Linked DNA regions of Homo sapiens. The protein of the gene in region 2 interacts with the protein of the main gene of each other region in a pairwise test. Each region holds a gene or a part of one and is shown on either strand. Other genes may lie near its edges.

Region 1 (4,948 bases), on a different chromosome or scaffold from region 2:
TCAGAAAATTAGGAAATCAGAGATATTCTAAAATTAAGAGGATGGAAGCCTGAAGCAGAGTTTTTAGTGTCTCAATACCCATTGTGCCATAACCCCTAGTCACAGAACATTTATTTGGTATATGGCTATCAAAAAAAAAAAAAAAAAAAAGACTACATTCTTAGCTTCTTTACACCTAAGTGTGACTACCTGACTAGGTTGTGGCCAGTGCGATAAGTAGCATATGGCAGTTACCATGGACAACTTGGAAAGAAAACTGGCCCTGGCTTTTCCTTCTGTCTTCTTCACCTCTCCTCTGCCCTCTGGCTGGAATAAGATGCTGGTTGGATCATGGGCAGAAGGGCAGATCCAGGGCCAGCATGTGTGGTTGTGTTCCGGGTGCAGTGCACAGTTGTAAATAAGCCGTAGCAAAACACTGGGAGAGAGGTAGTAAAAGCTGGATGCAGCCAAGGCCCTACCAATTGGAAAAGCACAGTACCAGCTAGGATAGCTGGTCTCTAGATTTGTTTTGTGAGAGAATAAAAAACTTTATATGATTAAGCTGCTGTTAATATGAGTTTGTGTTGTGTGAAGACAACCTTAATTCTAATCCATATAGGAATGTCCAGTTGTACACGTACATGCTCATCCAGACCCAAGAGGAAACTTGATTAACCAAAGTACAGATAGCAGCTAAAATTAGGAGGGTAGGTTATAGGTATATATATATATATATATATATATATATATATATATAAAATTTTTTTTTTTTTTTTTTTTTGAGAAAGAATCTTGCTTTATCACCCAGGCTGGAGTGCAGTGGCGTGATCTCAGCTCACTGCAATCTCCACCTCCTTGATTCTCCTGCCTCAGTCTCCTGAGTAGCTGGGATTACCGGCACGTGCCACCACGCCCGGTTAATTTTTGTATTTTTAGTAGAGACGGGGTTTCACCATGTTGGTCAGGCTGATCTCAAACTCCTGACCTCGTGATCCGCCCACCTCGGTCTCCCAAAGTCCTGGGATTACAGGCGTGAGCCACCAAGCCTGGCCTAGGTGTATTTTTAAGTGGGGTCATGAGGGTGAAGTTGAATATAAAGGGCATTATCCGTAAAGGGAATAAACACAACACGTGGATTTCTTTTCTTCATACTTTCCTAAATTTTCCAAAATTGTTAATGACCTTGTACTACTTTTATAACAAGAAGAAAATCAATGTAAATGAACAAATAAAAATGATGCAATAATTAAGAGCATAATTCATCAAACATTTCATTTTTGAGAATCCATATATTTCCCTGTGAAAATATTACTTACTTCTCAGGTACCCTTTGCTTAACCCTAAGAAGCAGGCACTTTCCTGCCTTTATTCACACTGCACCTGGAATGTTTTTGTCTGCCTAATCCCTACCTCTCATCTCAAATTGCAGGAACCTGGCCTAGCCCTGAAGGTAAGTTTAAATATTAGCTTCTCAATGATATCTTACTTTTTGGGAAAATAATAGCCTTTTTCTCTGAGTCCCAATATAAATCCTATATATTGCATCACTTAACATTTTACTTTTGCTCTGAGTAAACATATGTCACACCTCTAAGAATATCATAAAGTTCTCTGGCGCATATATTCTTCTTTGTCTTTATAGTTTTCTATTCATTAATTCATTCACATGTTCACTTTTCAGACAACTGATTATCAAATATCTCTCTATGATATGCCAACTATTATAGAAGACAAAGGGAGATATGAAGAAAAATAAAACATGTTCTGTTCATTCAAAGAGTGAGCTAACCATGAATAAGAGGAGACAGAGTGGCATTGGGCAAATTTAATGTCATAATTTCTATGGGAGAGAAATGTATGCAATGACAAGCTGACCGAATGTTTAGTTCTACTTGAAGAAAGTCAAGAAGGCCATCATGGAAGTATTGACTCTTGAATTATTTTTTTCCAAAGACTAATAGACATTTTCCAGGCAGATGAGATAAATGGATAAAAACTAAAGGAGCAGGGGTGATGAACAAAATGAGCCCAATAAGAATGAAAATAGGCCAGGCATGGTGGCTCACGCTTGTAATCCCAGCACTTTGGGAGGCCGAGGTGGGCAGATAACCTGAGGTCAGGAGTTTGAGACCAGCCTGGCCAACATGGCGAAATCCTGTCTCTACTAAAAATACAAAAATTAGCCGGGTGTGGTGGTGTGTGCCTGTAATCCCAGCTACCCAGGAGGCTGAAGAAGGAGAATCGCTGGAACCCAGGGGGCAGAGGCTGCAGTGAGCCGAGATTGCACCACCGCACTCCAGCCTGGGTGACAGAGCAAGACTCCATCTCAAATAAATAAATAAATAAAGTGAAAATATACTGCAGGAAAGAAAAGTTCATTTCATGTGCTGAATACACAGCATGTGAAGAGGGTCCTGAGAGGGGCTAGGGGCTTTGAATATCACATTTCATCCAGTGCTTGGAACATTGGAAGATAGTATTGACTTAAATGTTTGCAGTCACCGTGCTATGTACTATGCACCAGGCATTGTGTACACTGATTGACTGACCATGCCATATGAGATATTCAGGGGACAGCAAGCTTGACTAAGCCACAGAGTTGCAATGCACTGCCTCAATTTTCTCATTTCCTCAGACGAGGATGCTGAGCCAATGTTTAAAGTGATTATAATGTGACTTTCAGAGGAGAAACAAGCTTACTCAGCCTGTAGTAGAAAGCTTGGCTGAATTCAGGAAATGTGGTTACCCAAATGATATGCTCTCATCCTAGCTAAGGAATTTCTGAGGGAACATAGCCTAGCTGCCAAAAATCGGTTTCCTCAGAAAAAAAAAAACAAAAAAGTTTATTCTAATGGTCAGTTTGAAATAAATGAACAGAGAATTAAATGATTACGAGAGAAAAGGTTATAGGCTCACCTGAGAAGGATACAGTGCAATACGGTAAATATAAAAGTATCATTTGTTTTTCAAGGGTGTATCTTGAGAAAGGAAATTATTAGGTTTAGAAAAGGAGGAAACTGCATACTAGATAGTAACTACCACTTCTTTTCTACTTTCAAAATTTTTCCGGCTTCTATATTCAGGCATTTTTTTTAAGTGCCAAGTATTTGTAATAGAATTTTCCTTTTTTTTTTTTTTAATAGGAAAAGATTCCCAGCTACTACGGAGGCTGAGGCAGGAGAATTGCTCGAATCCGGGAGGAGGTTGCAGTGAGCCGAGACTGAGCCATTGCATTCTAGTGTGGGCGACAGAGCAAGACTCTGCCTCAAAAGAAAAAAAAAAAAAAAAAGGAAGAGATACTATTGTGTTCTCTGAATATTTCTTTTGAATCTTTCTTCTGATCTGTTGCATTCCAGGCAAACTCTCTGGACCAAAAGGGCAAGAAGCAGAATTGATGTCAACACACAGATAAGGGTCCAACAAAGACAGTCAGTTGGTTTCATACCTTCAATAGGTTTCGGTACAAAATGTGATGAGGGCTTGGTTTTCTTCACTCTGTTCCCCTTCATAATTTGACCTTCTTTATTGAGTCCCAGAAACCAAGCTCGGCCTGATTCTTGCTGGCGGTACAGTGTGGAAGAATAGATCACATAGTAGTTTTCAAACACAGATTCCTTGAATTTGCATTCTGGAGTGAAAACATCCTGTAGGAAAAAAAAAAAAAGACACAAAAAAGAGAAATGATTTAAAGGTGAATCAGCAAATGCTTAAATCCAATAAGCTTGAAATCCATGTCCTCTGTTAAGAACAAATGAAAGGCAATGACACATAGTTTCTATTAGCCTTTGGTTACAAAGATTCATCATACAAAATCAAAAAACATGATTGCCTTTCTAGCCAACCTTCAGCCCAGAGATAATAACTTGCTCAGGCTTGAAGCTACGTTAAAATCATTCAGGACTGTGGCCAAGTCTGCGCTCCGATCCTAGCAATATGTTTTGTAAACTAAAGTGATTGGCCATTCCTCATTTACTCACCCTTAACATGTAAATAAGGAACTAAAATTTATCCTGGAAATCAAAATCAAATATAACCACAGCAAACACAGGCACACAAGGTGCTTTTGAAGAGACTATTCTGTATATACAAATGTATTACACAGCCACAGCTTGGTCAGGAAAATCACCACTTTTCCTAAAGTCAGTAACTTCCTCTCTAATTTCCTTAAAACATTTTTTTCCTTAGTAATCAAAATCTCAGGTAAAAAGCCCAGGAATAATAGAAAAAAATTACTATTATATTGAAGAAAATTACTAATAGTATTAATTCCTATTACTATTGACCTCAGTGAAACACAGAATGAGAGTTCTAGTCTCAGAAGAAACTGTAAGATCCTGTACTTCAACTCCAGCATTTGGTAAGTGAGAAAACCAAAAGGTCACGTGATTAATTCAAATACACATTTAAGAAACTACTGAGTCAATGCCAGAGCTCACATTCATTGCTTCACAATCACAGTCTCTCAGGCTCACCTTTTCTGCCTGAGTCTTGTTTAGTGACTTATAATGAGATTTAAAAATCAATACAATAAAATCATATCCTAACATGTCACATGAACAAAATGTATTGTGTGGAAGGAAGAAATTTCTCCCCTTCTGAGATCAGCAGAAGAAAAACAAATGCTATTGCATCTTCTTCAGCTGCAATTAAACAGGAGTCCTACATGTCAGACATATTCACCACAGTCACCATCTTCCTCTCCATGAACTGGAAGAATTTCAGTGTGAGACTCCCATGATTTAATGCAAGCAAACCTGGAATTAAGTTATTAATGAATATAGGAATATTAATGAATATAGGTTGGTTGAAGCCATGTCCTTGTAGGTGATACTCCCATGCCAATCTCCTTATTTGTAGAGAGTGCTCTCTCTCTCTCTTTCTCTCCCTCTCTCCTTTTTTTTCTTTTTCTTTTTGTAAGAGGTGGGGTCTTGCTATGTTGCATAGGCTGGCCTCAAACTCCCGGGCCCAG
Region 2 (4,615 bases):
TAACAGTGAACACGGGGACCTTTGAGCGGTCTGATCTTGCTCCTCCAAGTCATAGGGCCACCCTGAGTTCTTGGCAGAAGCCCAGAGGCCTGGATCCTAGGAGACAAGTGGCTTTGGGGCCCTCAGCCTTTGGGGCCATCCGTGGACCCTGGGGCCTAAGTGGATCTGCAGCTGCTGCCCCTCTGGCAGAGCTCCCTACAGAGCTGGTTGCTGAGGGCCCTAGATCTCAGTAGCAGTGATCTCCTCCAGGCAGATGCAGGGGGCCTGCTCGGCCAGGCCCAGGTCAGCGAGCTCCCGGGCCTCCAGCTCCAGGCTGAGCTGCTGCAGCTCCTGCTCTAGCTGCCGGTTGCGCCGGTACATCTGGATGTAGTTGTGCTGCAGCTGCTTCTGGTAGCGGATCACCTGCTCCTTCTCTGCCTGCCAGGCCAGCCGCTCCCCCTCAAAGCTGTCCCGCTGCTCCTCACCCCGCCGCCGCTCCCGCTGCAGCTCCACCCGCAATCGCTCCACCTGGGCCCGCAAGCTGCCCCCAACCCCGGCTGCTGCCCGCTGCACTTTGGCCTCATCACTCTCTGCCAGGAGGAATGGGTCAGCGGTGGCAGGTGGCACAGGGGGCTCCCGGAGTCCGGCCGCCTCAGCATCCAACTGCCCAGCTTTCTCCCGCAGCTGCTCAGCTTCCTGGCGGTGTCGCTGCAGCTCCTGGGAACAGGCTTCCAGCTCCAGCTCCCGAGCTCGGGCGGCCTCCTGTAGACCCCGCGCACGGCCCTCACTGACCCGCAGCGTAGCACGGGCCTCCCGCAGCGCCACCCGCAGAGCCACCAGCTCGCTGCCCTTCTGCACCAGCTCTGCCTGAGACTCTTTCAGCTGCTGCTTCAGCAGGGAGATCTCGCCTGATTTCTGGCACACCTGGGGGTGGGAGGAAGTGGGGAAGGATGGTGAGACAGGTTCTCCTGGGGGGACAGGCCCTGCACATCATGCTGGGCATTTGGGAGAGAAGAGTCCATCTTTATCCCCATTTTACAGATGGAGACACTAAAGCAAGTCTAGTGACATGTCCAAGGTCATACAGTTAAGATGGGGCTTAAGTGGAAAGCAGACCTAGAACTTTTTGCTTCAAAGCTGGTGTCTTCAAAGCATCACAAGACACTGCAAGTACCACCAAGCCCTGGGGACTGGGGACTGGGGACTGGGTCCTGGCAAGTGCTGCAGGAGTGGGGACAATGGAGGGCAGTGCCCAGGTGCCTGCTGGAGAGGTACTACAGTGACCTAGTTAAGAGCTCAGATATTGGAGCCAGACTGCCTGGGTTCAGATTTGGGGCTTCAGCCTTTATGGGCCTCAGTTTACTCATCTCTAAAATGGGGAGACTAATGGTAGCCCCCTCAGTGTTGTTATAAGGATGAAATGATCTGTTCCATGTAACATGCTTAGAATAGTGCCTCCACACCACAAGCACCACATTCTTACTACTGGCTGGAAGCGTGGCTACGTGCCACTAGACAAGGCCAACAAGGAGACCCCCCTCCCAGAAAGGGACAGAGGGGAACCTCATCTCACGGAGGTGAGAAAGGGGAGGACCTCTGGGGGTGGCAGGCTGAGGGAGGGTGGGGCTGGGCCCCTTTTTCCAGGGTTTCTCCCTGTGTGACCCTGCTCCCTGCCCCTCCTGGTCTGGCCCACCTCCCACTTGGTCTCCTCAAGCCTCGGCCCGAGCTCCCGCTGCTCCCGCTCCAAGGTGGCGCAGCGCCGCTCCAGCTGTTCGCGCTCCTGCAGCAGCTGTGCGAAGTCGTCCTGCAATTGCCGCTTCTCCTGCTGCAGCTGGAACACCTGCAGCTGCAGCAGCTGTTGGGCCCGCTGTGCCCGCTGTGCCTGGGCCGCACAGTCCTCTCGCAGGGCCTCACGCTCTCGCTGCCAGTGCCGCTGCCGCTCCTCGTATGCCTGCAGGCGAGAAGAGAGACCTGGCTCCTGGGCAGTTTTCCCAACTCCCCACTCAGTGTCTGCTCTGGCAGCCCACTTCCGAGGGCTCAGGAAGGGTGGATTCCATTAAACAACAATAGTAATTGCAACAACAATACTAACTGCTTTTATGATGATCATAGAAACAAACACAAGAGCAAGCAGACCGGGCTCGGTGGCTCACGCGAGGTGGGTGGATCACTTAAGCTCCGGAGTTCGAGACCAGCCTAGGCAACACAGCAAAACCCTGCCTCTCCAAAGACCAAAAATTAGCTTGGTGTGGTGGCATGCGCCTGTAGTCTCAGCTACTTGGGAGGCTGGGGTGAGAGGACTGCTTGAGCCCAGGGGGTTGAGGCTACAGGGAGCTGAAATCACGCCACTGCTCTCTAGCCTGGGTGACAGAATGAGACCTTGTCTCAAAAAATAAAAAAAGCAAGCACTTGGCCGGGTGCAGTGGCTCACGCCTGTAATCCCAGCACTTTGGGAGGCCGAGGCAGGTGAATCACTTGAGGCCAGGGGTTCGCGACCAGCTTGGCCAACATGGTGGAAACCCTGTCTCTACTAAAAATAAAAAATAATAAAAAATTTTAAAAAAGGCAAGCATTTATATAGCACTTCCTAGGTACCAGGCATTAGTCTAATCACTTTACACCTTTTGCCTTATTTAATCCTCATAATAATCCTACGAAGCTAGAAATATCCCTATATAGATGAAGAAATAAAGGCTGAGTAAAGTTAAGCAACTTGCTCAAGCCCAAAAACTAGTATTTGGCAGTGGGAGGTTTGAATCCATGCACTCTGACTCCTTTCCACCCCACAAGTTTTGTTTTTTGTTTTGAGATAGAGTCTTGCTCTGTCGCCCAGGCTGGAGTGCAATGGTGGAATGTCAGTCCATTGTAACCTCCTCCTCCTGGGCTCCAGTGATCCGCCCACCTCAGCCTCCCAAGTAGCTGGGACTACAGGTACATGCCACCACACTTAGCTAATTTATTTTTAGTAGAAATGGGGTTTCCCCATGTTACCCAGGTTGGTCTCAAACTCCCGAGCTCAAGCAATCCGCCCACCTCGGCCTCCCAAAGTGCTGGGATTACAGATGTGAGCCACCACACCTGGCTACTCCACACATTAAACCAGACAACTGGTGGGGAGGGCAGGGGGGTCACAACTACAACTACCCAACCCCCGTTCCCTGCCAAAATGGAAATGCCGCTTGCATCCCAGGGCCTTGGGATGTCCTGCCATGCCCCTTCCCCATCATTGCCTCTGACCACACCTGGCACATGGTAGCCTCATTCTCGTCCAGACTGTCCCGCAGCTGCTGAAGCTCTGCCTCCCGGTCTCGGAGCTTTCCTTCCAGGACACAGTGCAGCAGGGCCTCATCCGAAGGAGGTGGAGGCGGGGGTGGTGGTGAGCGCTCCCCACAGGAGCTGCTGTCAGGGGAGGCCCGAGTACCACTGCCCAAAAGCCCCCCAGCCACACGGCCCCCTAGGGAGCCTGTGCTCTTGCTGGAGGAGGACCGGCCACTGTCTGAGTGGGAGGGCCCAGTAGGGACCCCTCGGGCTGGCCCAGGCAGTGCCCCTCGCCCAGAGCCATGGGAAGGCAGGTGCCCGCCTGGGGAGCTGGTGGTTGGCTCGGCACCTCCGGTGCTGTAGGTGGGCAGGCTGGACAGTGAGTTTCGGCCAGAGTCGGATAGCGTCCCTGATGGGCAGCCACTGGCCCAGCCACTAAATGCCAGGGGTTTGTCAGCAGCTGAAGAGGAGGAGGAAGAGGAGGAGGAGGAGGCAGGGCCCCCAAACAGCTGCGTCAGGCTGCCCTGGCTCCCAGACAGCCCGGTGGCCCGAGGACCCATGAAGCTAGGCAGGGACGGAGCCCCTCGAGGTTTGGGCAGCACTGGCTTGAAGGCTGTTGGGCGGATCAGGATCTTCTCCATGTTCTGAAATGAGGTGCCATGTGACACTGGAGATGAGCTGCCCAATCTTGCAGAGCCCTTATGACACTCCCTGCCCTCCCGTCTTGGGTCCCCAGTGCCCATATATTCATAACAATTGCGGCCACTGGTGGAGGTGGCCACCAGTGTCAGCTTTGTGTCAAGCAATTTGAAAAGTTTATCTCCATTATCTAAATATGATCACTATCCCCATATTACAGATGAGGAAATGGAGGCTCAGCAAGGTTAAAGGCCTTGCCCAAAGTCAAACGTATAACTGGTGCAGAATAACCAGAACGTAAGCAACTAGCACTTACTGCGTACATGCTACGTGCTAGGCACTATGCTATACATTATTTGACCTTCATGTCAGTTCTAGAAACTGAGGCTCAGGTTAAGTGACTTCCCTGAGGTCACACATCCAGAATGAGAGAGAGCTGGGATTAGGACCCAGGTCTGGTGAATCTGGAGCCCACACTCTTTCCTCTATATAAGCTTCTAAATTCCAGTTTCCCAAGCGAGGACTCCCGTTCTACCCAGGCCCACAAGGAAGAGCCGGTCCTCACCTTCTCCAGCTTTCCAGAGACAGGGATGAGCTTTGGTGGTGGGCCGCGGAGGTGGGCATTGTGTGCCCGCTGCTCTCGGGCATCCTCAACATCACTGCTTGGGCTGGGGGGTGACTCTGTCCGGAAGTCCTCATTGATGTAGGTGAAGCTGGTGACAGGGACAGCCTTCCTAGG

Evidence for each region. The genes of interacting proteins can lie anywhere in the genome.
Region 1: the proteins of LZTS2 (region 2) and FGF12 interact in binary tests that used the Homo sapiens proteins (3 or more experiments, as listed by UniProt).

The regions. Positions count from the first base shown.
Region 1 is NC_000003.12:192,167,034-192,171,981, forward strand, and holds part of FGF12 (fibroblast growth factor 12), read right to left. Parts: intron 3,624-4,948; coding exon 3,425-3,623; intron 1-3,424. UniProt on the Homo sapiens protein: Involved in nervous system development and function. Involved in the positive regulation of voltage-gated sodium channel activity. Promotes neuronal excitability by elevating the voltage dependence of neuronal sodium channel SCN8A fast inactivation.
Region 2 is NC_000010.11:101,002,773-101,007,387, reverse strand, and holds part of LZTS2 (leucine zipper putative tumor suppressor 2), read right to left. Parts: coding exon 4,442-4,615; intron 3,882-4,441; coding exon 3,222-3,881; coding exon of another isoform or gene 3,120-3,221; exon of another isoform or gene 2,912-3,119; intron 1,931-2,911; coding exon 1,673-1,930; intron 904-1,672; coding exon 220-903; 3' UTR 1-219. UniProt on the Homo sapiens protein: Negative regulator of katanin-mediated microtubule severing and release from the centrosome. Required for central spindle formation and the completion of cytokinesis.